7 linked regions of the Homo sapiens genome follow. The protein of the gene in region 7 interacts with the protein of the main gene of each other region in a pairwise test. Each region holds a gene or a part of one and is shown on either strand. Other genes may lie near its edges.

The links.
Region 1: the proteins of DRD2 (region 7) and GABBR1 interact in a two-hybrid assay, tested with the Homo sapiens proteins (one large-scale study listed by BioGRID and IntAct).
Region 2: the proteins of DRD2 (region 7) and TSPAN3 interact in a two-hybrid assay, tested with the Homo sapiens proteins (one large-scale study listed by BioGRID and IntAct).
Region 3: the proteins of DRD2 (region 7) and RTN3 interact in a two-hybrid assay, tested with the Homo sapiens proteins (one large-scale study listed by BioGRID and IntAct).
Region 4: the proteins of DRD2 (region 7) and GABBR2 interact in a two-hybrid assay, tested with the Homo sapiens proteins (one large-scale study listed by BioGRID and IntAct).
Region 5: the proteins of DRD2 (region 7) and TSPAN7 interact in a two-hybrid assay, tested with the Homo sapiens proteins (one large-scale study listed by BioGRID and IntAct).
Region 6: the proteins of DRD2 (region 7) and PIGG interact in a two-hybrid assay, tested with the Homo sapiens proteins (one large-scale study listed by BioGRID and IntAct).

Annotation. Positions count from the first base shown.
Region 1 is NC_000006.12:29,630,384-29,634,493, forward strand, and holds the start of GABBR1 (gamma-aminobutyric acid type B receptor subunit 1 isoform a precursor), read right to left. Parts: upstream 2,801-4,110; 5' UTR 2,467-2,800; intron 2,400-2,466; exon of another isoform or gene 2,314-2,399; coding exon of another isoform or gene 2,299-2,313; intron 2,003-2,298; coding exon 1,918-2,002; intron 1,219-1,917; exon of another isoform or gene 1,217-1,218; coding exon 1,013-1,216; intron 1,007-1,012; exon of another isoform or gene 261-1,006; coding exon 75-260; intron 1-74.
Region 2 is NC_000015.10:77,047,110-77,050,609, reverse strand, and holds part of TSPAN3 (tetraspanin-3), read left to right. Parts: intron 1-3,500. UniProt on the Homo sapiens protein: Regulates the proliferation and migration of oligodendrocytes, a process essential for normal myelination and repair.
Region 3 is NC_000011.10:63,684,500-63,687,999, reverse strand, and holds part of RTN3 (reticulon-3), read right to left. Parts: intron 1-3,500. UniProt on the Homo sapiens protein: May be involved in membrane trafficking in the early secretory pathway. Inhibits BACE1 activity and amyloid precursor protein processing. May induce caspase-8 cascade and apoptosis.
Region 4 is NC_000009.12:98,383,936-98,387,435, forward strand, and holds part of GABBR2 (gamma-aminobutyric acid type B receptor subunit 2 precursor), read right to left. Parts: intron 1,838-3,500; coding exon 1,705-1,837; intron 1-1,704. UniProt on the Homo sapiens protein: Component of a heterodimeric G-protein coupled receptor for GABA, formed by GABBR1 and GABBR2. Within the heterodimeric GABA receptor, only GABBR1 seems to bind agonists, while GABBR2 mediates coupling to G proteins.
Region 5 is NC_000023.11:38,568,042-38,571,541, reverse strand, and holds part of TSPAN7 (tetraspanin-7), read right to left. Parts: intron 1-3,500. UniProt on the Homo sapiens protein: May be involved in cell proliferation and cell motility.
Region 6 is NC_000004.12:505,710-509,209, forward strand, and holds part of PIGG (GPI ethanolamine phosphate transferase 2, catalytic subunit), read left to right. Parts: intron 1-8; coding exon 9-218; intron 219-1,695; coding exon 1,696-1,884; intron 1,885-3,119; coding exon 3,120-3,261; intron 3,262-3,500.
Region 7 is NC_000011.10:113,423,399-113,426,898, forward strand, and holds part of DRD2 (D(2) dopamine receptor), read right to left. Parts: intron 1,285-3,500; 5' UTR 1,254-1,284; coding exon 969-1,253; coding exon of another isoform or gene 965-968; intron 1-964. UniProt on the Homo sapiens protein: Dopamine receptor whose activity is mediated by G proteins which inhibit adenylyl cyclase. Positively regulates postnatal regression of retinal hyaloid vessels via suppression of VEGFR2/KDR activity, downstream of OPN5.

The sequences.
Region 1 (4,110 bases), on a different chromosome or scaffold from region 7:
TATCCATTCCCACCCCACTCCCATCCTCACACAAGCGTCCTCATCAGCTGCATGCAGGCAGCTGTTCCCCTCACCCTGGCAGTGGGGCTTGGGGGTGCTCCACTGGCCCTGACTACAGATGCTCCGGGAGCTGCCCACCAGATGGAAGTCGGGGTCACACCGGAAATCCACCCGGGCTCCGTCCAGAGCTGGGAGGTCCCCACCCGTCAGGAAAACCTTCCCATTTTCCAGGGTCAAATAAGACTTGGAGCAGATTCGGACTGTGGAGAGATAGGAAAATAAGAAGAGAGGCGAGTTGAAGAAGGCTCTTTCCCTTTAAAGAGCAGGGGACTCAGGTGCAGGTTTGGGTCCACAAGCATCCTGCTCTAAAGAAAATCACATGTGAAAAGGATTTGCCTACCTATCTTCCAATCCTCCCTTACCTGTGCAAGCATCCACACATTCCCAAAAGAAAAAAAAAATTACCATTTTAGGAACCCAAGATGGGGCTATAAGCACACAAAATGGGATCTCTTCAAAGTCAGCTACAGTGGGCGGTTCTCTGGCTTTGAAATATGTAGATGTATATAACTTTGGATGCACAATCAGATTTGCTTTTCTTATTATAGTTGGCTTCTATTAATATTAAACTGGCTTTTGTTTCTTGGGCATATGGTCTCTGGGTTGGTGACAGAGGTATTCAAAAATGTGATGAAATCATTTTAGAATTTTTTTGTCATCATCTGCCACTAATGATCCTCAAAGAGAATAACTGACAAGATGAATTATCAATGTTATAGGCCAATGATCAGTGGCCTAATGAAGGGAGGATGAAATGAACTGTGCAGGCTGCTAGCTCTACTACCTCCAACCGCACAGAGCAAAATTGCTCTTATGTAGTAGTCATTCAATAAATGTATTTGTGAATTTTGGTATACTGGATTTAAAGTGCTGACTTGCAAGCAGTAATGCTAAGTTTGCGGCAGGAAAAGGAATAGTCTTGAAGAGGGGAGGGGCTTCCGAGGCTACTCACCACAGCGGCTGGGTGTGTCCATATCTGTCCAGGAGCCGTTGGCCAGGCACTTGCGGACCTTGGGCCCCACCACCTCGCGCTCCCCCCGGCACACATACTCAATCTCATAGTCCACTGGCAGGAAGTTGATAGCCTTCACCTGGTCCCGAGTCAGGCCCCGGTACCTGATGCCCCCTTCCCAGGGCGGGTGTATGATCTGGCAACCTAAGGGGTGAGTCGGGGAGGCATACAGAGAGGAATGGTGGGAAAGAGGAAAAGGCAGGCTCCCCAGTGGGAGGAAGGGGAGAGTAGGGCGTGGTCTGTGGGCAGGCTGGGGACAGAGGAAGAGGGATGGGGCACTAGAGGGTGGGAGTGGGGACAGGTACAGATCCCCTGGCTAAAGGACAGAGAGTAAAGGGCCAGGGTTAAAGCTGATGAGAGAACCCACAAGTGGGGAGGGAAGGGTGCTGGGTGGAGGTAAGAAAGAAAAGTAATTAAGAAATCATGAAGGGTATGATATGTGGGTGGAGCTTTTCTTTAAAAAAAAAGGCTAAATGAGGATATTCGAGTTGAATTAGGATAGGAGGATAAAGGGAGGCTAATAAGATCATCTGGACAGCAAAGTGGGACCAAGAAAAGGGAGTAATTGAGGTAGTAATGTGGGGCTGGGAAAGGGGATTGAGGCGGAGAAAATGCACAGGAAGGTGGTATAGTGTAGCAATGTGGGCAGAGAAAAGAGGTGCTGGATAGTAACGTGGGGTGACAGAAGGAGGTCAGCAGTAGTAAAGTCGGGCCGAGCAGAAGGGGTTGCCAGACCGGGATGATATGTGGGACTGATGGGATAGTGATGAGGACCAGAAATGAGGAGATGCAGGGAAAGGGAAGTGGAGCGAAGGAGGGCCGGAGGTCGTCGAAGAAGGATGCACCTTCTGAGGTGGCGTTGGGGGTCTGCGCCCCGCCCGCGCCCGGGGGGCGGAGGAAGAGTGGCGCCAGTAGCAGCAGCAGCAACATCTAAGTGAGAGGCGGCCATGAGGACTGGACCGAGCCCCGCCGGCGCGGCCCGCACCCGGAGACTACTCGACCTCTTGCCGGTTGCCTCGCAGGCTCCGACCGGGCTCAGCCTGGGGACCAAGAGAGCGCCCCGCGGAGGAGGCGGGGGCGGAGCCCCGCGCGGGGTGGGGGGAGAGGAGGAGAGAAAGCCTGTCCCCACCCTCCTCCTGCCTCCCTCGGCCCCCAACCCTCCCGGGACTCCACCTCTCACCACCTCCTCTCCCCCGGCCCCCGCGGCTCGCAGAAGCCTGGCTTACCCACGCTCCCGGCATCGGCCGCCTCAGCGCTCCCCGATTCCATCCCCGCGGTTCCTCCTCTCCCCCAGCCCCGCTTCCCCCAGCTGGGCCCTGCGCCCACTGCCCCCTCCCCCACCACGCCGCGCGCCCCCTCTCCGAGCCCTGCTAACCCGGGGCCCTGGCTCTTACCTCGGCGCGCGGGCCCGGCTCCCCGGCTCTCCCCGGGCCTCAAGGCCCCAGGCCCGGCCGCTCCTCCCCGCTCCCCCCTCCCTTCTCCTCCACCTTTCTCCTCCTCCCGTCCCTCCTCCCCTCGAATCCAGGCTCCAGCCTGGCCAGGGTCTCTCCCCTCCTCTCTCGCTTCCCCCAAACCCCACCCCTGTCTCTTCTTCCCCGGGGCGGCGGCAGCCACGGGAGCGGGGAGCGGGGAGCCGGGAGGGAAGGAGGCGGCGCCGGGGACCAGGGAGAGCTCCCGGGCGGAGGGAAGAAGGAGGGTGCAAGGGAAGGCAGGGCGGGGGGAAGAGAGGGGAAGACCGGGGAGAGGGCGCCTCCCACAACCCGAGCCCCGGGAGCCGCCCCGGATCCCAGCCCCGCCCTGGACCGCCCACAGCGCGGTGGGGCGGGCGGTGGAGAGGCGCGGGGCTGAGAGGTGGGGGAGAGGGAGGTGCCCTGGTGCACACGCACTCGTCGGGGGGCGCCGGTCACTGCCGAGGGACCTGCGGGCCAAACAACTGGAAGCTGGGGTGGGGGAGAGGGAACCCGAGCCAAAGGCAGAGGAGCTGGCGCTGAGACAGGGAGTCTGGGATGAAGGTGGAGAAAGACGGCTGCACAAAGAGAAGGCAGCCCTAGATCCGGGTGAGAGGAGAGAGGCAGAGGCAGATGCCCAGGAGAACTGCGACCGGAGGGCGAGAAAGAAGCCTGGGTCAGAAGGAGGTGGGGGAGGGGGACTGAGGACCACCTAAGCGCAAGAAGGGTTGGGTGTAGAAGAGATTTCTGGGAGACTAGAGCAGCTCCATGGTCCAGCAGCATTGCTACTCGCCTGCTCTGCAGGGAACGCGCAGAACGGATTGGAGGCAAAAAACAAAACAGGGAGGGGGACATCAAGGAGAGAAATTGAAGTACGAAGGGAGTAAAAGGACAAGAGAAAAGAACCTCAGGGTGGTTTAGAAGCCAGTATTACCTGATGTACTCCAGCAGAGCCTAGCAAACAGTATTTCTTGACCAAGGGCAAACTGGAAGCTCTAAAGACAGCAGGTACAGACCTTTTTGACGGCTCCAGAAGCTCTTGGCTATACCTTGAAGTGGAGGGGTGTGTGTGTGTGTGTGTGTGTGTGTGTGTGTGTGTGTGTGTGTGTGTGTTGTGCTGTTGTTGTTCGTAGGCCTGAGTTTGGGCTGGGAGAGGAAACAGTGGGCTCCTTGTTGGGGGGGACAAAAAAAAAGCTGCTTTCTGGCTGGTCCTAGGGGGAAAAATGGTAGGAAGAAACCAAACACTGAGAGACTGACTAGAATTGAGATTCTCAACCTCCAACCCTTTTTTACAATAAATATTTTGTAATGACACTTTTACTGTCCTAAATTGAGATTCATAGATGAGGCTCACGCCTGAAATCCCAGAACTTTGGGAGGCCGAGGCGGACTGATCACTTGAGCTCAGGAGTTTGAGACCAGCCTGGCCTGGCCAGCATGGCGAAACCCCATCTCTACTAAAAATAGAAAAATTAGCGTGGTGTGATGGTGTGCGCCTGTAATCCCAGCTGAGACACCAGAATCGCTTGAACCCGGGAGGCAGAGGTTGCAGTGAGCCAAGATCGCACCACTGCACTCCAGCCTGGGTGA
Region 2 (3,500 bases), on a different chromosome or scaffold from region 7:
ACTGTATGGTACTTGTGGTCATGAAATATGCAACATGTATATAGAAGACTGATAAAAATAATCACTTTAGCTATGTCCCTCATCTAGTTAAGCGGCTTAGCCTGCCAGACATTTCTTTATTAAATATTTTTCAATAGGGGCTAATAAATATTTTAACTAGTCTCTTAATTTAAATATGACTGCCATATGTGTTTTATACTTAAGTCACCCTGACTTAAGTAAAAGCTGATAAAGCTTGATTTTTTCACTTCAGCAAGGCTGCTTAAGTTTAGGGATTCAGAGCTTTCACAGACTCAAAACCTAGTGGTTTTGAAAATTTTAAAAACTTGGGTTTTAAGGGGAGAAAATTTATCTGAATTAATAATTTTCCCTAATTGTTTTTAAGAGTACCTGTAAACATTCTAAGCTTCTGGTATTCAAAATCTGATAGATTGGTGCCCTGGGTGTGGAAAACCTGAACAAAGGCAGAAATAACTGAAAGATCAGTGAGCTTTTGTGCTTATACACTGATCCTAATATAGACATTTAGAGCTGGAGAGGATGGTTGGAGAGTCTCCAGTCTTGGCCCTCTTTGTTTAGCCACAAAATTTTGGGTGAGCAAGGATAGTGTGGCATGACCATCACACAGAGTGTCAACTCTAGAGACCCCTGCCTTTGTTTGTACTCTGCCTCCAATTACAAGTATAAGATTTGCAGAAGATTAAATTCCTAAATTTTGTCAGGAAACCTGACAGTTAATTGACACTTTAGCTGGATAAAATACAGAGGTAAGATGGCAGAGTTGAGTAGTTACAATATTGATTGATTTTTGTCTTGGTTTGGAAAGCCTAAAATATTTATGATATGGCCCTTTAAGAAAATGTTTGGTGACTCTTGCTCTAGTCCATTAAATAATCTAGATTTGGGTAGGACCAAAGTGACCAAGAAAGAAAAACCTGAAAAATACCAATTAATTATAATAACAGGACTTTTGAATATAAAAGAATGAGGTTTTAAAAATTTTGATGTACCCCTTATTAATTAGCAGGATATTTCACTTCTTTGAGAGTAGCCACTCTCTTAACTCATGATCAATTATGAATTTTATATTTAAAGAATCTGGTCATAATAATTGACAAAAATCTAGATTTTGATTTGTCAAGCTCCTGAGTATCTGCTGTGAGTAAGGCTGTCTCTCTACAAAGGCAATACGGGGAAAATGTTCTAAGTCTTTACTTTGGGGTCTCATGAAGTTGGCATATCCTCAAGATAGAACGATCAAGAGCAGATTTCATAAAGAACTGTTTCCCAAGGCCATGTTGCTTTTTTTCTGGTCTCTGTGCCGCATGTGAAGCCGGTGGAGACTGCTCTTTCCTCCTCCTCCTCAATTACCAGTTATTCGTTAAAATGAGAAACTTCCTCCTCCTTCCCCTCACACCCTGGCCAACATTGCAAAATGTTATATAAATGAATTCATATAGTTTGCAACCTTTTGTACCTTCTTAAAAACAAATTAGTGTATTTTGGATATAGATCTGCCTTTTTAATTTCATGTCTGCATAGTATTCCATTTTATAGGCATACTTTAATCAATATTGATGGGCTGTTTATAGCAAAAATTTGTAACTATGAAATTACAGTATCAGAATGTATGAATGAATTTTGATAGGTATTTCCAATTTTTTCTCAGAAAAGAGTGTTTCTAATGTGCAAAAGTTCTTATTTTTGTATAAGAATGCCTATTTCCCCATACCACCAGCAACATGGTATATCATAGAACATTTTACTTTGCCAGTCAGTTTTTTTAATCACCACTAGTCATTTTTTTCAATTTTTGCAGTTGCTGGGTGTTATATTTGGGCTAAGTGAAGTTTAATTCTCATGCCTTGAATATTGCAAGAGAGTATTTCATTGCAAGAAATAATGTTGGAGATAAAATATTTGTGTAATGTTTCCAAGTATGTTGTTGGAATGTTTCAAAAATCAATGGAATTTCAGTATAGCAGGCCTTTGGAAATGAGCCTGTAATAGTTAATGGTGAGGATAAGAAATTATTATGTAGAGCTTAATATTCTTAAGCAGACTGATTCCCAAGCATGAGTAGAATTTTATCAAGTTTATTTGTTTTAAAATCAATACAAGTTGATTTCATTGAAATAAACAAATTGGGAAAGAAATACTTATTTCAGACCTCATTTTGAGAATGCTGGCTTCTCTAATAGAAGTTAACCAATTGAAAGGAGTGTGGGGAGGTGGGGGTGGGAAGAGAGATTTTTTTTCCCTTAGCAAACCAGTCATTTCTGAGCTTAGCATTTTTATTGCTCAATTTAACATTGCCTGAGAACATAATTGCATTTGAGTTTATAGCTGTTCTAACAATGTTTTGATGTACAGAGAACAGAAATGTATTTCTCTAGGAATTAGGTACTTCATCGGTCTAGAATTGACTTAAATTGTTTAGTAAACTTTAAATAATATTCACCTCTTAAGTGTGTTTAAGGTGCTTTGCAAATGGTGAAATGGTGCAAATGGTGCAAGTGGTGAAATAGTGAAACTGATGGATTTGAGCAGGAAATATATATCCCGAATGGGCAGAATATAGGTTAATGTGAGGGTAGAAATTGGAGTGGGTGACTTTATACCATGGAGAATTCAGATTGAGGACATCCTTATGTGTATGTGTGTCTTAGTAGTGGTTAATCTTCCACTTCAAACTTTGAGAGTCTGTTTATGGATTGGGTACATTTTGCGGAAATTAGATTGACCCCCAAATGTACAGAGGACCCTGTCTTTTAAAATCAAATAACTGAGGCTTTTCCTCATCAATGAGAAGTTAGAACAGCAAATTATCTCACAAAAAAATTATATTTTGGGAGAAGGTAGGTCAAAAATTCTAGAATCATTTTCTCTTTAATCCAGCTTAATCCTTTTGCTTATCCAAAATAACATGGCATGACTTTATTACTATTCCAATATGCTACCACAGAAGGTTTAGGACTTATTGAAATAAAATGATGACGGAAGAGTGACCTTTCAAAAGTAATATGTATGTAATACCACAGAACCGTGGATTTCAAAAATAGTGAATGTGAAGGAAACAAAAAACCTTCCAACTACATTTTTTTTGGCATCAGAATTTGTTTTCTACCATAGGGCTATTCACATACTGAATTTCGTTTTCCAAAAACCAAAAGACCTGAAAAGACCACTATTAAACACACACATTCTTGCTCATTCTACTCCCCAGGCCTTTGCTGTCCAGAATGGTAGCCACTAGCCACATGTGTCTACATTTAAATTAATTTAAATAAAATTAAAAGTGCAACTCAGTTGCAGTAACTATATTTCAGGTGCTCAGTAGTCACATGAGGCCACATGACAGTGCATATGTGGTATGTCTCCATCGCTGCAGAAAGTTCTTTCGGACAGCACTCGCTAGACTAGTAGTGGGGATGCCAAATAAGAGAGACTTGATTCCCTGCTGGCTTTACGAAGAGTTCCTGGGAGGGAAGCTGAAGCTT
Region 3 (3,500 bases), about 50 Mb from region 7:
TACCTCTTTAACAGACCACCTCAGTGGAAGCGGGTGGCAGCTTTATGACATTAATGTGAAGGGCCACAAACTGAAACAACTGACTCACATGTGGAAAGGGAAAAAAGGCATAACAATAGTCTTTGATTGTGAGGAAGACAGATTTCTCATTTGTACTTGAACTGCTATGTGGTATCTATTAATATGTGCAAGTAGTTTGTAACCTACAAATGGATGTCAAACATTAGGTATTGTTATTTAATAAAGGTCAGGATTTAAGGGTACAAAGCAAATGTGTCTAGGTCACATTGTTGATCTATATTTCATTTCTTCACATTAATGGTACAGTTATTTACTACAGGCAAGACACTGTGTTAAGCCCTATAAATGTGTTCACTTTTTTTTTTTTTTTAGATGGAGTCTCACCCTGTTGCTCAGGCTGGAGTGCAATGGCGCTATCTTGGCTCACTGCAACCTCCACCTCCTGGGTTCAAGTGATTCTCCTGCCTCAGCCTCCTGAGTAGCTGGGATTACAGGATTACACCCAGCTAATTTTTTGTATCTTTAATAGAGGCAGGGTTTCACCATGTTGGCCAGGCTGGTCTCGAACTCTTGACCTCAGATGATCCACCCGCCTTGGCCTCCCAAAGTGCTGTGATTACAGGCGTGGGCCACCGTGCCCAGCCAAATTGTGTTTAATTTTCATACCAACTCCAAGATAGATACTATTATCCCAATTTTCAAGTTAAGGAAACTGAGGCTCAGGACTTGCACAAGATCACATAATTATTAAGAGACAGGGCCAGGATTGAAATCTAGGCATTCCTGGAGCTCAAGTCTGTGTTTTAACACATTACACTGCCACTGATAATCTGACACGAATGTAACACTCAGATGATGTCAGTGTTGGACGGGGGCCACATTCCTTTTTATTTAAGGGTTAACTCAAAACACAAATTACATATTCACATTTGATTAATATGGTAGAACAAAGTGTGAAAATGAAGCCATAAAAAGTACACAGAACAACTAAGTTTCATGAGTGAGGAAAGAAATATTTAAAGCAAAACCTTTTTCAAAAAATTGCCCAAGCTGTTTTTGCTTTGAGCTAATTTCCATGAACAAACATATAAAATGTAGTTTTATTTTGGCATCATGATTTTCTTTTTTCCTTTTCTTTTCTTTTTTTTAAGACAAGTTCTGGCTCAGTCACCCAGGCTGGAGTGCAATGGCACAATCTCAGCTCACTGCAACCTCTGCCCCCAGCTCAAGCCATCCTCCTACCTCAGTCTCCTAAGTGGCTGGGACCACAGGCGCACATCACCATGCTCAGCTAATTCTTGCTTTTTTGTCTTTTTGTAGAGATGGGGTTTCACCACTATTGTCCAGGCTGGTCTCAAACTCGTGAGCTCAAGCAAGCCACCCACCTCAGCCTCCCAAAGTGCTGGGATTACAGGTGTGAGCCACCAGACTCAGCCAACTTTCATAACAACAATAAAAAGCAGTCTCTAGCAAGTATAGAATTTGTTCTTTTTTTTTTTTTTTTTTTTGAGACGGAGTCTCGCTCTGTCCCCCAGGCCGGAGTGCAGTGGTGCAATCTAGGCTCACTGCAAGCTCCGCCTCCTGGGTTCACGCCATTCTCCTGCCTCAGCCTCCCGAGTAGCTGGGACTACAGGCGCCCCGCCACCACGCCCGGCTAATTTTTTGTATTTTTAGTAGAGACAGGGTTTCACCATGTTAGCCAGGATGATCTCGATCTCCTGACCTCGTGATCCGCCTGCCTCGGCCTCCCAAAGTGCTAGGATTACAGGCGTGAGCCACCGTGCCCGGCCAAGTTACAGAATTTCAACATCGTGTCATCAGTAAACTATTAAAGTACTTTTAAAGTTCAGATGATAGACGTGTCTCTATACTTGAGGCCTAATAAAGGCAACTCTTGCTCTGAAATGAACACTGAATATTTCAGTCTCTTTTACCTCAACCTCAAATTTTTGCCTCTGATATCTTCAGTTTCCTTCAAAGGCAGAAATCTGGGAAGCCATCCTGACCCCTGATCCCCATCTCTAAGCATACTACATTGCTGGCTGCATTAGAACCTAAGGCACTAAAGTACAGAGTGCCATCACTCATTCTTGACCTGTATATAGTAACTAATACTTCTAAAATTAATTACTGGACAGGTCAGTCAAGACAAAATTGTTTTCTGTAGGACACCAACCAATCACTTATTTTTCTTTAACTAAAATCAAGACAAGTCTCCAAAACCAAGAGGAGCTTGGTGAAAGAACATGAAGCTGGAGGATGACAGCAATACGTACAGATTTTTTTTTTAAACAATTAAGGTAATTTTTTAGCATCTACATTTTAAATAAGTTAAATTTTGGAATAACAAACTTCATCTTATTTTCATGGTGCAAAAGCCTGAGACACTTCCTTTGTGACATGAAGAAAAACATCCAGCAAGGAGGAAAGGCTTCTGCAATAAAAATGATTACAACACATTGCAGTAACTTTTTTTTTTTTTTGAGATGGAGTCTTGCTGTGTCGCCTAGGCTGGAGTGCCATGGTGTGATCTCAGCTCACTGCAACTCCCGCCTCCTGGGTTCAAGTGATTTTCCTGTCTCAGCCTCCCGAGTAGCTGAGACTACAGGTGCCCGTCACTGTGCCCGGCTAATTTTTGTATTTTTTAGTAGAGACAGGGTTCCACCATGTTGTTCAGGCTGGTCTCTAACTCCTGACCTCAGGTGATCCAACCACCTCAGCCTCCCAAAGTGTTGGGATTACAGGAGTGAGCAAGCGTGCCTGGCCCCACACTGCAGTATCTTAAGGTAAACTTTTATGTTCAAGTAGTGACCCAACAAATGAGGATCTTGCATTGGGCCCACCAAAACTGTATTAGTGCTTTTTAGACAATATGAATGCACATTTGCAATGGATAAGCATTTAAGATAAGAGTCTCTTGGCTGGGCTCAGTGGCTCATGCCTGTAATCCCAACACCTTGGGAGGCCGAGGTGGGCGGATCACTTGAGGTCAGGAGTTCAAGACCAGCCTGGCCAACATGGCAAAACCCCATATCTAGTAAAAGTACAAAAATTATCTGGGCGTGGTGGTGCATGTCTGTAATCCCACCTACTCAGGAGGCTAAGGTGGGAGAATGGTTTGAGCCCAGGAGACAGAGGTTGCAGTGAGCCAAGATCACACCACTGCACTCCAGCCTGGGCTACAGAGCGAGACTCCAAAAAGAGTTTCTCTTTAGTTTATTTCTCAAGTGTGCCTTTCTAGCTCGTAAATTTGATAATTTATTCAACAAATACTTACCAAGTACTACTATATATCACTGTTTTAAGTGCTAATAGTGATACGTGTCTACAGCACATCTAAGAAATACAAATTCTGTAATAAAATTTTACTAAGAAATAATGGGTAAAGCTGGTCACAGTGGCTCCCATCTGTAATCCCAGCACTTTGGGAGGCCGAGGAGGGCAGATCACATGAGGCCAGGAGTTTGAGACCAGCCTGG
Region 4 (3,500 bases), on a different chromosome or scaffold from region 7:
GCCTTCAGCCCTCATCATCCAGCAGTGGGCAACACTGAGGCTTGTGAGCAACAAATGCAGTCTAAAAAAGGCTGCTTTGCAAAAAAGGGCCCACAGTGCTCTCAACGTCTTGAAAGAAAACAGCACCAACAAAGGAGTGGCTTTTGGATGAATCCACTCAGCACCGATCTTTTGACCATCCCCTCTAGCTCTGGTCTTCCAGGCAGGGGACTGGATGAATTACTGCATGTGGGACTCTAAAGAGACCCAGCTGGCTAACCCCATTTGGACAGATCATAGTCAATGTCCAGAAATACATCCCAACTGATTACTTTATTCTTAAAAAGTAAGTTCATGATATTTTCAACTGAGAGTTAGTTCCATAAAACTATTAAGTGATTGCTAATACATAACCCCCTTTAAAAAAATAACTAGGGAGGCCGAGGCAGGCAGATCACCTGAGGTCGGGAGTTCGAGACCATCCTGACCAACATGGAGAAACCCCGTCTCTACTAAAAATATAAAATTAGCTGGGCATGGTGGTGCATGCCTGTAGTCCCAGCTACTCAGGAGGCTGAGGCAGGAGAATCACTTGAACCCAGGAGGCGGAGGTTGCAGTGAGCTGAGATCATACCATTGCACTCCAGCCTGGGCAACAAGAGTGAAACTCTGTCTCCAAAAAAACCCAAAAAACAAAAAAAAATAAAAGGCATTTCTTTAGGCATTAAACTTTTTAACATGTTAATTAACTTTAAAAATAATCTTTCTAATGTATAGTAAATTAGTTACACTGCTTTGGACTTCATTAAATATATATATATCTCAATAGGGATGATACAGCCCCCTTGGGGGCAACTGTTGGTTCTTGAATGTGAAGAAACATTACTCTTTTTTACGTATAAACCATAGATATATATATAAAGTACACAAACAGATATACATTACATTTCTGGTATTAAACTTTCATAAGAGGAATCATTAGGAAAAAATGTCTAAAAATGCTCCTTAGGGGAACAATAAGGAAAAAACCGTTGAAGAAAACACCACTTAAATAGAAAATAACAATTATAGCTTTTACCATATAACTCAGTCAGACATACAAAGATCTATCGTCATATTCTTTGATGGTTTTTGAGGTAGATGGGAGGATCTGTTCCTTCTTAAACGATCCTGACCCTGACTCTGACCCTTGGCGCTGATGCTTTTCTGGAAGATAATATTTTTCCCCTCCTTTTCTATGTTACTCTGTCAATTCTCAGTGGGCTCTCTTCTAACAGTGGCCTGGTAAGTCCAGTATCTTTATTTCCGAGACAGGGTCTTTCTCTGTTTCCCAGGCTGGGGCACAGTGACGCGATCACAACTCACTGCAACCTTGATCTTTGGGCTCAAGCAATCCTCCCTCCTCAGCCTCCTGAGAAGATGGGACTACAGGTGTACACCAGCATGCCTGGCTAATTTTTTTTTGTATTTTTTGTAGAGACAGGGTTTCACCATGTTGCCCGGGCTGGAAGTCCATTATCTTAACTTTGTAGGTGGTATTTATACCCAGTGATGGCCTGACAGTAACACCGTTCTTCCCTGTTGAGTTGAAAACTACTAAATGGGTTGTTCCCTGCCTGTTCATGTATTTTCATGTATTTCTGGGTTTGCATCTGTGTTTTCGATGACTGAGGTCACCAAGGAAACTTTCTATCATATACCACTGGCTTATGCAGAATGACTTACGGTGCAAAGTGTTTCAAAGGTCTTTTCAGAGACAAAGGATCCATCAAGGCCAAAGAGAAATATGGAAGCATAGGAGAGCATCCCTCCAAGGATGATAAGGTTGTTCATGTATGGACTCGACATCTTTATGAGCCTGACAAGAGAAAGAGACAATAGATTTAACAGAATGGTTAATTTAGTTATTCCTTCAACAGGTATTTTCTAAACGCCTGCTAGATATATATTGTTGCTCAGGCTAGAGGGGAGAGAGAGAAACAGAAATACGCCATGGGGCCTCAGGGGACACATCAGCAGGAAGTCCCACATTTCTAGTCAGATTTTCCCCAACACCCAGGTGCTCACTCTGGAACCTTCCCCTTACAGAGAAATAATGAAAAGCTCTGGTTTCCTCTACCCTCCTCCCCACCTACTGTTTGTCCTTCACTAAAAGACCTCAGACAACTATATATTTCTAATTGTTGATTTCCCTGCCTCCTTTGTCAAGTTCACCTATTACTTCCCAAGGGACAGCTTGTCACATCAGCTTCTTCATCCATTAATTTTCAGTTTAAACAAAAGCATTAAGTCAACAGGTTTTTTTTTTTTTTTTTGGCTGGAACTAAGAACTCATGTCAAATCTAGAGAATGTGACATGTAACTTCAGCCACGTTCCCCACAGTGAGGAGAAAGTCCCATACCACACTCCCCAGCCTTGAGTAGACCATGTCAAGGAGGCCTAACTGTGAGTCTCAGGGTTGCTTAGGAAAGCTCACACTGTTCCGTGCACAAAGACAGCCACACATGTGGGCAGGAATACCTCTCCCAGTCACCGGGTGACAGAGGGAGACACCAGAGTCCGCAACCCACCCACTACCCCTGTCTTCACTAGGCTGCAGTGGGGAGCAGGGAGCATTCTTTATACTTCCAGACGCTGCATCCTTCTCTGTCATTTCCTCCCGGAACCCTGTGGTGGCCTCCAGCTGCCCAGCAAGCCAGGGTCATCAGTGGGCTTGTAGGTGCCTGGCCCCCCCAGCACAATCAGCTCAGAAGGGCTTCAGGTTTTAGGCGCCCTGTGGTTGAGGGGCTCTTTTGCAGACTGTAATTACAGCCAATTGTTCCCCAACATTTTCCTTTGCATTCTCCAGTTCTGTTAACCCTTCACATTTTAAACATGCAATACGTCAAAGGGAGAGGGAAATAAGAAGCCTGCTGCTCTTCCTCTGTGAACTGCACCCCGGCTTTCAAGTTGGGAGCAGGGGGTCCAGGGCTTAGACTCGGCCACTCCATAAAAGTGACACCTTGACAAATCACTTAGCCTGGCTGAATTTCCTCACCTGTATAACTGATCCTGTTGCCTTGGACACACATGAAGCTGAGATGACGCTGGGTCCTTGGAGGTCCTTTTGTAAACCGTGAACTACTTAGGTGCCTCAATTCTTATTACTACAGCAGTCAGGGGAGGGGAGAGCCTGGGGGTTGGGGCAGGCTTCCCAGAGGAGGTGGGCCTTATAGGATGGATTTAGGAAGACAGAAGTAGGGGGAGGGATTGGGAACCATAGCAATATTTTTTTTCTATCTTTCTGCAGATTTTTAAATAGCCAAGCCAGTTAAAAAACAAGACAAAACAAAACAAAAAACTTCACCTGGATGCCAGCCTCTTGAAAAGAGTAATGGTAACTTTCCCCCAGGAGGCCAAGAGGGGGTAGTTAAGGAATTCAATGAGTTTAGTCTTATGATGGGGCAACTTGCTGTCCTGATGGGACTTCTCGAGGCATCTGGGCTGTCAATCTAACTTTGAGAGCTGATTATGTGCCCAG
Region 5 (3,500 bases), on a different chromosome or scaffold from region 7:
ACGAAGACCAAATTAATATTGCCAGTACTAGGTTAGATACTCCGTAGCTACCTGCAGATCCAGGAGGCTCAAGTGAACCAAGCCTACTATTATCTACTGAGTTCTCCCTGGATCAATGTTTCTCAATCCTAATTGCACAGCTGAATCACCTGGGAGCATATTTTAGCATATCAATTCTGGCACTCTGTCCAGACCAGTTGAATCAGAATCTCTTAGGATGGGGTCTAAGTATCTTCTTTAGGGCCCCTTAGGCAATTCTATGGGCAAACAGGGTGAGAATCACTGATCTAGTACCTATGTCTGTTCACCAGTACCTGTGTCTGACTCATCTCATCATCCTCTAGTATAAGGCACCTGGAATTTCTCCTAGAAACAGATGATGATGGGAAAATCCCACTATATCTTGCAGAAAGCACCAAAGAAAATCTTCCAGAGTCAAAATGTGATGTTTAAACTATTTTAAATGCTTTACACTAAAAGCCCAGACTTCACCACTATGCAATATATATATGTAACAAAACTGCACTTGTATTCCCTAAATCTATAAAATAATAAATGTTTCAAAAGGCAATAAACAAATAAATAAAATGCTTACCTGTTTAACTGATCAAATAACCAAAAGGAAAAACAAAACAAAGAAAACCCTCTCCTTTTTCCTCTACATCCTTTTCTTGATGAATAGTGGGGTTCTGCAGTAAGATGAAAAAAATGTTCAGCCAAGAATGAAAATCATTCTGTCATGGCAAGGGGAATAACAGCCAAAATAAGAAATTTAAGAGCAGCATTCCAAAAATCTGCTTGCAATGAGGAGGTAACTCAGATTGGAAGCTGCTGTAATGGAACTAAAGGAGAAAAATACATAAGAATATATTTTTAAAGTGTGTTTCAAATGGGTTTAGCAGTGCATTAGTCATCTATGTCAAGAGTTTAACATGTTTAAACAAAGAAACACAGTCACAATGACTTTCAATTTTCAGCACCTTCTGAGGTACTTACTTAAAGCAGTATATAAAGAACAATCACTGAATAAGTAATGCAACTCACAATAAGGTCAAATCAAGAACTCTAGTTGTGATTAGAATGGAGAAGAGTATTTCATTCTATTTAGACCAAAATTCAGCTAATTTCTAAGCAACGACTAAGTGAAAAAGACTTAATGTTCCCCAAATGTTATAAAAGGTAGTTCACACATCCTAACTGTATATTGCGTATAGTAAATTAAGTTGATAAAATAAGAAAAAACTCCAGATTATAATGTACAAGTCCCATAATAACCATGAAGGGTTATCACTGTAGTAAAAGAAAAACAGCCAAGCAATAATCAGTTTAACATCAAGGTCCTCTCCCCAACACACACACCACACTATAAACACTAAATTAATCCAGCAAGGTCCGAATTAGGTCAGAAGACACATGGGACTTCATCTGGTGGGAAGAAATAAGAGGGGCAGAAAAAGCAGCAGCAACCTTCAGAGCTTCATTTCCATTTGTCCAGTCGCTGATGACCAGACGACCTTACAGAGGATGTGTCTTAGTAAGTCTGTTCCAACTTAGAACACTTCCCTTGAAATCCAAAAGCTTTTTAAAAATTGAAAACTGGGTACCAATATTTATTAGAATAGCCCGACTATTGCTGTTTTAGATGCTCTATTCAATCACTCACAATCAACTGGGTATTTAATTAGTACCATCTGATGTAGAGATAAAGATATAAAGGACTTCCAGTTAAAGATGACGGATTGAACACATCCATTTACCCTGGCTATCTCCCAAAACTCCACTGAAATGACACTAAAAGAATGTTTTTAACCTACAATAACAAAGAGAGGAGACAACCACAATGATCTCTTCAAAGCTGAGAAAAAGCAAAATCTTATGGCAGCTGTGAGAGAAGCACAAAATAAAATATTTGCACCCAAACATCCCCAAAAGACTCAGGGGTTAGCAGCTCCATGCACACCTGGAAGTAGGGAGGAAAGGGGAGCTAAAATAAGTAGGTTCCAGTAAGAGTTTTTCGAAAAACAATTAGATTCCCCACCCCCACCCCCGCCACCAACTTCCTGTCTCTGGCCTCTACTCATTCTACTATAGGTTCAGATATTTATTCTTTGGAGGGTGAAAGAGATGGTCCCTGAACTGGGGAATATAAGCACAGTGGACATGGATTCTACACTGGAAACAGGAGCTTAAGCAAAGGTTTATATACTGTATATAGAGACTTCTATATTCTCACCTTCTTTACTCAGAGAGCAATTAGAAGATTCTTCTGTAGGATATCTGATGAGACCAAAAGAAGAGACCTAAAGATATTGACCTTGGTCCTAAAACTCAACTGCCCAGCCAAATCACCCAAATTACAATTGATAAACACGTACTTCAGGCTAAGAGCTTCCAATCAGCTTCGTAGTGCCCCCTCTTAAACACGTACAGAAAAAAGAGCAAAACATGACCAGAAATTTGAGGTAAGCCTGTAATATGCCAGAAAACAGAACAGTCTGAAGGAAACTATGCAGGAAGAAGCAAACTCAAAAAAATTACTAATATTTTCAGAGAGATATTAAAACTATATTACACTCATGAAACAAAAACAGGATGCTAGAAAAAAAGAACATTCAGACCTCAAAAAGAAGCTTCTAGAAATTAACATATGAAACAAATGAAAAATGCAATAGCAGCAAGATAAAGTGGAAGTGATCTCCCAGAAATAGAACAAGAAGAAAAAGAGGTAGAAAATAGAAGGGGAGAAAATTAGAGGATTAGTCTAGGAGGTCCAACATCCAAATAGGACAGAAAAAAATGAAGGTAAAGAAAACAAAAAACAAAAGAAAATTTCCCCAAACTCAAGGACCAGATTGAAAGGTATACAGAAAATTTCCAGATTGAAAGGGTACCCAGGAAATAGTTTAAAATAGACATATACCAGAGCATATTGTTGTGAAATTTCAGAGCAAGCAAGAGATCATAAGAACTTTCAGAGAAGAAAAGCAGGATTCAAGAAGAATCAGAATAACATCTGATTTCTCAACACCAACAACAAGAACAAGACTTGGAATAGGGAGAAACAGAAAAATTCTGAGGATAAATGATTTCCAAACTACAATTCTACACTAAGCCAAATGATCAAATTAAGTGCAAGAGAAAAATAAGATTTTCATACCTGTAAGAGCTCAAAAAATTAACCCCCAATACATCATTTTTTCCAGAAAATTATTAAACTTGCTCTACCAAAATGAAAAAAAAAAAAACACCAAGGAAGAGAAAGACATGACATCTCAAAAACCGAGGATCCAACGTAAAAGGAGACAGGATTCACCAGGATGATGGTGAAGGGAGACTATATTGATGTCCACTGTTTCAAAGGCCCAGAAAATACTAGTCCAGATTGAAGATCAGAAAGCTTTGGGAGAAATGCCTCTGAGAACAAGAATCTGATATGACACATGAAGTGTTTGAACAGACTGAGTGAAGAAACAGATCTTGGGGAAAGTACAGGGATAAAT
Region 6 (3,500 bases), on a different chromosome or scaffold from region 7:
GACTGCAGGCATTGATGACGGGGAGCCTTCCTGGCTTTGTCGACGTCATCAGGAACCTCAATTCTCCTGCACTGCTGGAAGACAGTGTGATAAGACAAGCAAAAGCAGCTGGAAAAAGAATAGTCTTTTATGGAGATGAAACCTGGGTTAAATTATTCCCAAAGCATTTTGTGGAATATGATGGAACAACCTCATTTTTCGTGTCAGATTACACAGAGGTCAGTTTTTAAAATAAGAAAATATATCATACTAGAATATCATACTAGATAGAGCCTGGCATCCCATTACTTAGTGAGAGATGATACCATTTTATATTTGGTTTTATTAATTTATAGGGAGTACTATGGACAGGTGTAAAAATTATTCACTCACATAATCAGTTAACAACCCAGAAATACAAACCTGAAGCAGGTGTGAGCAGAGTTTTATGGAACCCAAAGCTTAGAACAGCTGAGTGCCATTGAGGGGCAGAGAGGATCAGGAAGGGTGACACAGCCAAGGGACTGTCTGAGCCGAGATATGATGGGTGAGTGGGGACTCCCCAGGTGGGCAGAACAGGCTGGTAGCTTCTGCACATGGCAGAGCTGTAGGACTCCACAGCCTGTTGGTTCTGCTGCAAGCGGAGCCTCATCGTGCCCTGAGGGCAGGTGGCCGACTGGGTGGGGCCTGGTCCTGAGGGGGTTTTCCTGGAGCTTTTCCAACAAAAATTAGACCTGCATGTTAGAAAGCAGACCTGGGGCTGAGGTAGGAGCACACCAGCACACCTGCCTGGCCTGGGGTTTAGCCAGCTTCACCTCCTAGATGGCTGGGCCTTATGGAGCATCTGTAGTCCTATCCTGTTCCAAAGTGGGGCGCTTTTCAACAGTTACTTTTCAGTAATGACTGAGTTTTCCTGACTATATATGGCATCACTGAGAAACACTTCTCTTCATAGGAGATTTTTTTAGTGGGAGGGAGATGAGCTAGCTGAGGGGTCAGGGCTCACCAGGCTGACAGCTCTATTGGGGGCTGATCAACTGCTCATCTCTCCTCCGTGATGTGTTTATTTCAGAAATCAATGTGATCATTGAGTGCTGTGTCTTTTTCAGAACAGCCTTCTTGTAGGACACATGTAGATGCCCTCAGCTTCATCATCCTGCTGGTTACTTTAACGCTGGGTACTGTCCTGTCTTTAATTAACTGCCCTTTGCCCTTAGTTACCTCATGACAACTTGGGATCTATTTAACTTGCCCATTTGCTCACCTTCAGTTATGCCCATTAAGCCCAGCAGTGATCCCACAGAAAAATATTTTTGTCAGAAGAACCCTTGCTCATTTAAATTATCTGTAGAATATATTCGATCCATAGCCCAGAAACATAAAAACAATATTAGCAAAAGTTTAATCCAATGCTAATGTTCATTTATTTATTATAGACGTGGGGTCTTGCTATGTTGCCCAGGTGGGTCCTGAACTCTTGGCCTCAAGCAGTCTTCCCGCTTCAGCCTCCTCAAGTGTTGAGATGAAAGGCATGAGCTGCTGTGTCCAGCCTATTTATTTATTTTTAATGACATAGATTTTGTTGTGTTTCAACTCCCCCAAATCCTGTAACCTGAATAAACCCCTAGATTTTAAGATGACTGTTGCGTTTTCCCCGGGGAGTGAAGATCCAGGGAAATTAGGTGAGTTGTTTATACGTGTGTTTCCCCTTCAAAGGTGGATAATAATGTCACGAGGCATTTGGATAAAGTATTAAAAAGAGGAGATTGGGACATATTAATCCTCCACTACCTGGGGCTGGACCACATTGGCCACATTTCAGGGCCCAACAGCCCCCTGATTGGGCAGAAGCTGAGCGAGATGGACAGCGTGCTGATGAAGATCCACACCTCACTGCAGTCGAAGGTGAGGCTCGCCGTCGCTCACTGTCTGCTGATGTGGTTTCACGTGGATGTTCCCTAGAATAAATGCAACCGCCTGAGTTATTCAGGGTGCCTGTGTGAATGTCCACCATCAGTCTGCTAGCCAGGGGCCGCATGCCACACGGGCAGCACTGTCTCAGTGTCCACTGCACTGACTCCGTCTTCCAGCAGCCCTGCAGAACAGCAGCTCTCACTCCTACCCGTGTATGCATTCATTCAACTAATACCTCCTGAAGACCTTTTGTGCCACTCTCTCTGTTCTGTATCACTCTCTCTGTTCTGTGCCACTCTGTTCTGTGTCACTTTCTGTTCTGTGTCACTCTCTGTTCTGTGTCACTCTCTCTTCTGTGTCACTCTCTGTTCTGTGTCACTCTCTCTGCTCTGTGCCACTGTCTCTGTTCTGTGTCACTCTGTCTGTTCTGTGTCTCTGTTTCTGTTCTATGTCACTTTTTGTCCATGCATTTGGGTGCATCAGTGAAACAGTCGATAATCCCTCGTGAAGCTCACGCTCTAGCCAGGAGAGATGAGAAAGATGAGTAAATAAGTATGTGAGGAGGTGATGGGTGCTGCAGAAACTCAGAGGGCAGGAGGAGGGGCTTTCAACAGCGTGTTGAGAGAAGCCTTCCCTGAAGACGTGTGCAGGGTGAGCAGAGACTTGAAGGGAGGGAGGGGCAGACCATGTGGTCTGTGCACGAGTGTTCCAGGAGGACCAGCAGCGAGGGTCAGGCACAGCCTGCCTGGCTTGTCCCGGAGCAGCAAAGGATGTGTGGCTGCAACCCCAGGGGCAGAGAAGCCTGGTGGGTGCCCCCACATGGCTCAGAGCTCTTGCCTTTTGCTGTGTGTTGTGTTCTCACCAGAGTCCTGTGAAAGATTCCATTTGACAGATGAGGCGACCAAGGCACAGAGTAGAATGCGTCCAGAGTCTCACAGCTTGGCAGTGGCAAAGACAGAAACCAGATACAAACCGTCTGCCATCAGAGGGCAGAAATGCAGCCTGCTGTGCTCCATGAGCTGTGTACAATTCTGTGAACTTCATTTATGGCATTATTTGACTGTGACCCTGTGATCTGGCTATGAGCTCATAGGAAAAAAAAATCTAATTCATTGAGAAAGAGCTACAACTCTATAAAGTAAAGCTAAAACCGAAAATTGTCTTCTTAAGATGATGTGCTCTCTTCAGTCTGAACGCAGTTGAAATGTTTTTCCTTTGCCTTAAAGGAGAGAGAGACGCCTTTACCCAATTTGCTGGTTCTTTGTGGTGACCATGGCATGTCTGAAACAGGAAGTCACGGGGCCTCCTCCACCGAGGAGGTGAATACACCTCTGATTTTAATCAGTTCTGCGTTTGAAAGGAAACCCGGTGAGAATTTAGGAATGTTAACAGTTGGAAATTGTATTACATTTGTTTTCTATAGTCTGGTTTTAATTTTGAAAACCTATTTTTTAGAAGCTCCATAAGGTTGAAGTCCCCAAGCAATGTGAGCATGAAAAGTAATTGGGCAAAAGGCTTTTGGGATCTGAAGTTACGTTCCTTCCCGAATCCTTAAAATACAGTTATTCTTTGTCAGAATTTTGTTGTATGAATGTTGCTGCCTGGAT
Region 7 (3,500 bases):
CCAAGTATCTGGGATTACAGGCATATGCCACCACACCTGGCTAATTGTTGCATTTTTAGTAGAGATGGGGTTTCACCATGTTGGCCAGGCTGGTCTTGAACTCCTGGCCTCGTGATCTGCCTGCCTCGGCCTCCCAAAGTGCTAGGATTACAGGCGTGAGCCACCGTGCTCGGCCTGTTTCCTATTTTGTAAAGTGAGAAGAGTAGCATGGACTCCCAGGGTTACCAAGAGTATTCACTGGGTCTGTGTCAGCAATGCACCAGGCACAGTGTCTAGACTGTGCTGCCTACTCCCCATTTTGAGGTGCAGAGCTGGGCCAAGAAATGAGTGACTACACAATTCTTCCTAACAAAAGGGCTACAGCACAGTCCATGGCAGCCTCTACCTGCAGGTCCTGGACAGGGCCCCAGGATAAGCTGTGGGAAGGAGAGGGGATATGGGGAGCATAAAGCAGCAGACCCATTTCTGAAGTGGGGAGATGGGAGTGAAGGTTTCAGGGGCCTGGGAGCATAAACATGCCCCTCCTTGGGGATCCTTGCCGGTTACTCCTATTTCCAATATGACCTAAGGAACTAACTCTGAGGCCAGAATTCCAGCTTGGACTTGCCAGCCGTGTGATGCTGCAGCAGTTACTTAACATCTCTGACCACCTGGTTTATCAACTGCAAAATGGTGGCAATAATGCCAGCCTCTAAGCTGCTGTGAGGGTTATATAGGAAAATGCTATATTTAAAGTCCCTACGTGAGGCCCAGCACTTAGTAAGCACTTTACAAATGGTAGTTGGGATTATTAAGGAAACAATCTACCCATTTCGTAAGGAGAAAAAGTAAGCCCAGAGTGAAGGAAAAACCACCTGGGGAAGCACCAGGAAACTCATTGGTAAAAGCCAGTGGGGAGCTAGAGTCCCCAGTGTCCAGTGCAGGGCCCTGCTGGAGAAAGTGCTGGAGCAAGCAGGGGGCCCACCTACCTCCAGGTAGACAACCCAGGGCATGACCAGTGTGGCGACGAGGAGGTCGGCCACTGCGAGGCTGACGATCAGGTAGTTGGTGGTGGTCTGCAGCGCCTTCTCGCGGGACACAGCCATGCACACCAGCACGTTGCCGAAGACGATGACAGCGATGAGCAGGGTGAGCAGTGTGGCATAGTAGTTGTAGTGGGGTCTGTCCGCCTTCCCGTCTGACCCGTTGAAGGGCCGGCTCCAGTTCTGCCTCTCCAGATCATCATCATACCAGGACAGATTCAGTGGATCCATCAGGGCGGTGGAGCCACTGGGTGGCCAGGCTCTGGCCAGGAAAAATGGACACAAGGTGTCAGTGAGAGGGCCTCTTGCAGAGGTCTCCAGGAAGAAGACCAACTCCTGGCATTTAATAATGAGAATTTTCCAACTCGGGATTTTAAGGTTTACGGCTAAGAATTTTCTAAAAATGTTGGGCCTTCTGCCACTCTTTTGCTAGCAAGTTTTTACAGCTGGTAGGACAAATGAGCAAACACAATTTTTTAAAAATGCATAATAAGATGAGCTTGAACAGAGCTGATCCATCATTTATTTATTCATTCAACAAACACTTCTTAAGCACGACCCATGCACCACACACTTCAGTTAACCAGGCTTGCTACCTTCTAGTCATCGAAACAGAAATGGGTATTCATTCATTCTTGATTCTATAAATATTTATTAAGCATTGTTCTATATAGTTCTAGAAATATAGGCAGGAACAAAATATACATGGTTCTGTAGCTCACATTCTAGGAGAAACAACAGCCAATTAATCAAGCAATTACATCTAAGGGTGATAGGGAGTAGGAAATGGAACAGGGAGAGAGATACATAACCTAGTTCAGGTATTCAGGGAAGGCTTTCTAGAGGAAGTGATGTTCAACAGACAAACAACTGAAGGATGTGTAGGAATTAGCCAGGTAAAGAACTAGGAGTCAGCAGAAGGTCTAGACATTGGAAGCAGTATATGCAAAGCACAGAGGTAGAGAGGTAGACAGCAGGTGGAGGGCCTCAAAGAGATTCTGGATAGCTGATGCAGAGGGACCTGGCAAGGGTTGAGTCTGGGGAGGTTGCAATAGGCAAGATCATAGAGGGCCTTAAAAGTCATGCTAGGAGTTTATACATGATCCTAAGGGCAGCAGGAACCACATGATCAGATTCGCCTTTCGAATAGGTGATTCTGACAGCACTGTGGAGAACGGAGAGGAGGGGCCCAGAGTGGAAGCGGGACACCAACTGGGAGGCTGTAGCAGGAATCCAGGTAAGAGATGATGAGGTTTGGCAGGATGCAGGGAGTGAAAGCCCTGCAGAATGGGCATCTCATCCCACAGAAGGGAAAGACTTCCTGAAGTGGGTATCATCTGGGATGAAGTAGAAGGAGGACTTAGCCTGCTAAATGAGAGGGGTGGGGGGATGTTCCAGACAGACAATATGACATGGTATCAAATCATCAAACAGCAAACAATTCTGTTTGGCCAAAAATGTAGGGTATGGCAGTAACGTTGAGGATAATTAAACTGCAGGGACATTTACAGGCCAGATTGTGTCTTGTCAGCTGGAGAGTCCCTGAGAGGTTGGGCCCAGAGACATGACCCTATTGGACTGGTGTTCTAGAAAGTGTATGGTGTAGAAGAGAGCTCAGAGGAGAGTGATGTTTTGGCTGTAATTTAGGTTAGAAATTGTGGTCATCTGAACGAAGATAGTGGAAACGAGGATGGAGAGACCTGTTCAGAATTAGGAGCTAAACTGCAAGTCAATTTCATGGTCCTTGGTCCTTGGATAGGTGTGGGGCAAAAGTGGGTATGGGACAAGCAGGGAGATAAGGAGTTGAGGGTAATGCTAGGATTTCTGCGTGGGGCTCTGGGAGGCTGGTGTCGCATATTCACAGAGAAAAGGGACCAGAGGGGCTCAGGAGCAGACTTGGGAGGCATCAGGAGTTGATGAACTTGACAGCCGGAGTTTTGGTTGTGACTGAAGCATAATGCATGGATAATATAGTTGGCTTTTCAGCTAACAAAAGTCTTCCTCTTTTACAGAATAGAATTAAACTTATCAGCATTCCAAGGTGTTTCATACAAAGCACATGACTTCCAGGTACTTTGCTACTGCAAATTGAAAACCACCAATTGATGCCATTTGGGATGAATGTGGTGCCATGTCCAATCAATGAACAGGGCACACCTCCAGCAATGGGTCAGAGAGGATGGTGGAAGAGGGTCTGCCCAATCTCCACACTCTCATCCCTGTCTGACACACCCACTCTTCCAGCTTTAGTAGAAGAATATGGATCATGTCCTACCAACCACCATCACTCTGGAGCCTCGGGGAAAAGCAAAGTGCCTAATTCCATGTGGGGTGACATGGAATGCCACCACGCAGCAAATCTTCCTGTTCTAAGGTAATGAAGCATATGTCATATTGATGCTGTATTCTGCAAAACCAACTGAGCCCTCTTCCCATTTGGAGCCCACAGCGGGAGGCCTGCATGTATGTATTGATCAG